Linked DNA regions of Homo sapiens. The protein of the gene in region 1 interacts with the protein of each later gene in a biochemical or structural test. Each region holds a gene or a part of one and is shown on either strand. Other genes may lie near its edges.

Region 1 (2,980 bases):
TGCTGGCGCTTGAGGTGGCGGCCCAGGCTGGAGCGTGAGGAGAAGCGGAGCTCGCAGACCAGGCAGCAGTAGGGTTTCTCACCAGTGTGGACGACCTAGGGGTGCGGGAGGAAGGGCACAACGTCAGGGCTGAGAACCTAGCCCGGACAACGGATTCCTGGACTCCCAGAGGGTTGTGGCACAAGCTCTCTGTCACACCTACAGGGCCATGATCTAGGGAAACGCTCGTCCTATCACTCTCTGTTTGGGGTCACGGTAGATTCTTTCGGTCCTTAAAAAGGCCATGTCCTGGCTGGCCATGGTGGCTCACGCCTGTAATCCCAGCACTCTGGGATTGCATAAGCCTAGGTGTTTGAGACCAGCCCAGGCAACACAGGGAAACCTTGTCTCTACAAATAATTTTAAAAACTAGCTGGACACGGCACACTCCTGTGGTCCCAGCTACCTGGGAGGCTGAGCCAAGAAGTTTGAGGCTGCAGTAAGCCGTGACCATGCCACCACATTACAGCCTGCATGACAGGGTGAGACTGTGTCTCAAAAAAAACAAAAAAACACGACTGGGTGCGGTGGCTCACGTGTGTAATCCCAGCACTTTGGGAGGCTGAAGTGGGTGGATCATTTGAGGTCAAGAGTTCGAGACCAACCTGATCAACATGGTGAAACCCTGCCTTTACTAAAAATACAAAAATTACCCGGGCCTGGTGGCGGGTAGTCCCAGGGACCTGTAGTCCCAGCCACTCAGGAGGCTGAGGTAGAAGAATCACTTGAACCCGGGAGGTGGAGGATGCAGTGAGCCAAAGACGTGCCACTGCACTCTAGCCTGGGTGACAGAGCGAGACTCTGTCTCAAAAAAAAAAAAAAAAAGCCCGGGTGCGGTGGCTCACGCCTGTAATCCTAGCACTTTGGGAGGCCGAGGCGGGCGGATCATGAGGTCAGGAGATCGAGACCATCCTGGCTAACACGGTGAAACCCCGTCTCTACTAAAAATTCAAAAAATTAGCCGGGCGTGGTGGCGGGCGCCTGTAGTCCCAGCTACTCAGGAGGCTGAGGCGGGAGAATGGCATGAACCCGGGAGGCGGAGCTTGCAGTGAGCCGAGATCGCGCCACTGCACTCCAGTCTGGGCGACAGAGCGAGACTCTGTCTCAAAAAAAAAAAAAAAAAAAAAAGAAATCACTATCGGTGGCTAATGGCTATACTGGACAGTGCAGCTCTAAAGTGACACAGCAGCCAGCCCTAGCAGGGTGTGTCTTCTCCCTTGTCAAGCCCTGCTATCCCGAGCCAGTTATCATGAGCTGAATACAGGCCTTAGGTGTGTTAGGGCAGAGAAGTGATTTTGAACCGAATCCGGCTACTGCTCAGAGTTTCTCCCACTGAACGCTTTTCACACATACAGATCCAGGGAATCACTTCCAAGTCTAGGGAATCGAATCTCCCAGGAGGGAGTCCAGGAATCTGTATTTTTTTCTGAGGCATTGCCAGGCTTGTAGACTGTGTAAAACCGTGCCTTAGAGAGGTTTTTTGTATTGATATTTGTCCTTGTTGATTTAAGATTTTGGAATAACAGAGAGAGATTTGTGAGTATGGTAATGTCTTCCTGGAGGCCTGTGAGGAGAAGGGTGAGGCTGGATGAGAAAGAGTGCAGTGCTTGATTAGTAATGTCTGCCAGGGGCACAGATCTGAAGAAGGAACAGGGAGTGATGTTCATTTGCCTTTCTGGCTCCAGACTCGATGCACCTGCTGTACAGTGTGGGTGTAGGGATCTCTATCCTCTTTGTCACTAAATTTATTCTCTCTCTACTCTTTTAACACAACAAGATTATGCTGGTCCCAGGGCCCTTGTACATGCTGTTCTCACTGCCTGGAATGCCCGTAGGTCTATTTATCTGTCAGCTCCTTGGAAACCCTTCCCGGAATCTGGCCCCCTGGCTCATCAGTGATCCTCTTCCACCCTCCTTCTTTAAAGCCTATGGCTCATAGCACACTTAGTGTCTACATATAACTTGAGTGTTGTCTGTCTCCCCACCAGCTAAGGACGATAAAAATAGTGACCACATTGGTTTTGCTCACAGCTGTATTTCCAGGGTCCGGCACTCTCCAGACTTCTCCTGAGCCACACTTTCTGCTTCTCCATGCTCCAGTCACATTGGCCTTCCTCCAGTTCCTCCAAAGCCTGCTTTGCTTCCTTGAAAGTACACATTTTGTTCCCTGGATCCGGAAAGCCTCGGACCCCAGAGGCAGATCATTCCTCACCTTTTTCTCGGGAAAACCATCCCTGACCCCATCCCCGATCCAGACTGCTTCAGCTCTCTCTTGCATTAGCCTCAGAATATGGTTATCCTCCATCCTCAGATGTCTCGGCTGCAGCCTAACATTGATTAACCTAGTTGTTCAGTTCACATCTCCCACATTTGACTCGAGGCCATACAAAGGGTGGACTGTATCTGTTTTGTTCCCTTAGCTATTTTTTTTCCCCCAGAGAGCCTAGCACTGTATCTAAATACAGTAGGTGCTCCTGAAATGGTTCAGTTGAATCACAACCTACTGGTGGGTGGGGGTGAGGCCCCTCAGGGGACTGTCAATTGTTGCATCAAGCTAAGGAGCTCCCCTTTCATCCTAAGGATCAAGGGATTTAAGCAGGGGTCACCTGGTCACTCTGTGATAGATGCAGAGACTGGATGTGAGGGAGAGAGACAGGAAGGAGGGAGACCACTGAGAAAGCCGGGGCCAACATTCAGGATGTGAAGTCCTGAACCAAGGCAGATGCATGGGGACAGAGAGGACAGCCAAGTGTGAAAGACCATCGGTAGATGCCTGGTTTTCTTCACCCTGGTTGTGCAAGTGTCTGGCACATAGACAGAGTGTGACCTAGCCCGTCCCATCTTTCACCTTACCTCCTTCCACCCCAACCCCACAGTCTCCCATCGCTTCCTGGAACACAGCACACTCCTTCCTTCCTCAGGGCCTTTGCACTTGCTGTTC
Region 2 (3,053 bases), on another chromosome or scaffold:
GCCCCTCAGTGACTTCCTTGGGTGATCCTGACTTTCTAGCCATTAATAAAGAGAACTGCTCCTAGCACCTCAGCCTCTAACCATCATGCCTCAGATGCCCACTGGGCAGCCTGCAGCACCCCCACACACACCATAAGAAATGAGGACCAGCACCTTTCAAAATCTGAGACAGAGCTCCCCAGGCAGGCTGCTGTCTCTGCAGTCTTACCCCAGCTATGTGCCAGTGGGATCTGAGGAGCCCCCTCCCTCACCTCCCAACCCCAGGGGGTCTAGGCACCATGGAGAATAATTACAGGAGATAGGAGGATAATTACGGGCTGTCAGGAGGGCAGGCTGAAGCTTTCTTATAGCTGTCTCCAGAGAGGCCCTGCTGAGTCCCCCAGGAGCTGAACCCCAGCCCCCACACAGCTGTGGGGCGGGCCAAGAGCAGGTGCTGGGGGATACTGAAGGAGGGCAGCAGGTCTGCTAGTGAATTGGGAACATAGTGGAGCATCTAAGGCCTATACAGTCTGGTTTCCCGGGTGTGTCAATGTGTGTGTCTGTTCATGGCCTTAATGGGTCACACTCATGGACTCAGGGATGTGCAGTGCATGAACACACAGATTCACACACTTAACAATCACATCAGCAACAACAGCAAATATCATTACGTAGCATGTGTCAACTTTATGCTAAGTGCTTATTTAAATGCATTTATTCTCAGTAGGTGGTTACCATTATTTTCACCATTTTTCTGACAATCAAGTGAGGCTTGATTTTAACCCACCCATGGTCAAAAAACTGGTAGAACTGCAACTTGAAACAGGGTCTCACTCTGCCACCCAGGCTGGAATGCAGTGGCACGATTATGGCTCACTGCATCCCCGAACTCCTGGGCTCAAGTTATCCTTCCACCTTAGCCTCCTGGGTAGGTGGGACTCCAGGTGCATGCCATTACATCTGAATTTATTTTATTTTATTTTTTTGTAGTGACAGGGTTCTCGCTATGTTGCCCAGGCTGGTCTCAAACTTCCTCCTTGGCCTCCCAAAGTGTTGGGATTACAGGCAGGAACCACTGCGCCCCACCTAAAGCACTACTCTTAATCACCACAGTGTGCAACTTTGTTTTTTTAAGTATACTCAGGTAACCCAGGAGTATCATTTTGAGACCCAGGTATGGTACTGTATATGTGGCCTAGTTGTGTGCTCAGGTGTCTATGGATGGTTCTGTCTGTCTTTGTGTGCCATGCAGGTGAGAAAAGTGAACAAGAAAAGTAGTGGGTCTGAATTACAGCTCCAGGGCAGGCAAGGATAGACACAGGTGAAATTTAGAGTGAGAGAAAAAGAGCTGGGCTCCCGGAAGGACCCTCCCTGCCCCATCCTCTCCCTTCAACAATGAGTGTGGAAGGGGATGAAGAAAGAGAAGCTAAAGGTTCTGTGAGCCCCTCAGAGAGAGAATCCAGAGCCAGAGAGGATGGCCAGTGGCCAATGGTGGGGAAGGGAGAGGAGACGAGAGAAATTCTGAGAGCGATGGAGGAGAGGACTCCCATTGCAGGCTCCTAAGCGGAGGAGGGATGAGCTGGGATAGAGGAGGGGAAAGAGGGAGCAAGAACTGTGATGGGAAGAGAAGAGACAGCTGGGGAGGGGGTGGAGAGAGGGGGTAGAAAGGAAGAGGGACATATGGGAGCCTCTTCCCCCATGCCCGAAAGCTTCTCCCATTTATTATGTCCGGTAGAGGACAGATGACAGTAACTCGTGAGGCGGCTGCTCCCAGCACAACGCCTGTGCTCTGCCCAGAGGCCCCATCTGCCCTCCCCTTAGCCTGCTGAACTGGAGGACTGGGTTACCATGGAAACTGTGAGACCTGGATAGCCACTGACAGGCCGAGCTGGGCCACTGAGGCTTCTGAGTTTGGTGGTGGTGGTGGTGAGAGGGGGAGGATCCATCTGTTCCAATGCCTGCCCCTCCACCCCATTTCCATTGGCTCTCCATAACAGATGTGCCACCCAGCTCCAGGTGGGGACTTCCCTTTTTCTTGCTCTCTCTCTCTCTCCCTCTCTCTCCCTCTCCCACACACAGACACACAAACAGTAGCCTGAAGCAGGGATAAAGAATGAACACTTCTTAAATTGCAAGAACATTTAGCTTATTGCATTAGAATTCTGCCTGGACTTCAAGTTTAATTCACAAAAGCTGCACTCTCTCAGCAAATTGTCATCCCAGGAGAAGTCTCACCTCAGCCCTCAGAGAGGTGGGAGGTGGCAGGAGCACCCTGTGCAGGTCTGGAGGCCCAGACAGCCTGGAGGGAGCTGCCGAGGACCCACGTATGTGCTCACAGAGAAGCCAGGCTTCCTCGCCTGGGCTGTGCATCCCCTGCCTAGGCTGCAGCTGGGAAACTGCAGCAGGATAGGAGGTGCCTTTGGCGAGATTGTCTTGGGGACTTCTTGGGGAGACCACCGGGACTTCCATACTGGGGAGATGCCAGAACTGGAAAGGGAGCAGAAGTCGTCCAATCCACATGAGAATTAGATGAAGTAACACAAGTCCAGGAAGCAACTGATTTGCTCAGGGTGACAGGGGGATCCCATGGAAGAGCTGGGACTAGGACCCAGGTTTCCAGACTTCTGCACACAGCTCTCTCCCAACCCACACCAACAACCCCCAGAGCTCACTCTTCAGGCCTTTGCTGCTCTGAGCCCTGAAGGCCACAGGGTTGGGCAGGGAAAAAGCATCTCGGATAGAGGTCCTAATCTATCTAGTTGTTGGATATTGAAATCTTGAAAATTCTGTAGTGCTAAAATGGGGAGGTTACAAGCTTCAGAATGAAAATACAGCCTCATTGCTAATTACAGCTTTAATGTGTTACAGGTTGAAAACCCTGAATTAAAAACTAAACTGAGGTGGGAGCTGCAACCCTCCTCCACCTCCCATTCACTGTGTCACCACACTTCCACCCCCCAGTGCCTGGCACTGGTCCCTGCAGAGCTCAGCGTGCTAGTCATGTGGGCTGGGTTTCTGTGTTCGTAAGGGGAGGGGACCCCTCTCCAGAAAATGACCAGCATCTAAATTCGGGC

The links. The genes of interacting proteins can lie anywhere in the genome.
Region 2: the proteins of FIZ1 (region 1) and NRL form a complex in vitro, tested with the Homo sapiens proteins (one study listed by BioGRID).

What each region holds. Positions count from the first base shown.
Region 1 is NC_000019.10:55,593,552-55,596,531, forward strand, and holds part of FIZ1 (flt3-interacting zinc finger protein 1), read right to left. Parts: exon of another isoform or gene 2,345-2,980; coding exon of another isoform or gene 2,069-2,344; intron 96-2,068; coding exon 1-95. UniProt on the Homo sapiens protein: May be a transcriptional repressor of NRL function in photoreceptors. Does not repress CRX-mediated transactivation.
Region 2 is NC_000014.9:24,078,021-24,081,073, forward strand, and holds the end of NRL (neural retina-specific leucine zipper protein), read right to left. Parts: 3' UTR 642-3,053; downstream 1-641. UniProt on the Homo sapiens protein: Acts as a transcriptional activator which regulates the expression of several rod-specific genes, including RHO and PDE6B. Also functions as a transcriptional coactivator, stimulating transcription mediated by the transcription factor CRX and NR2E3.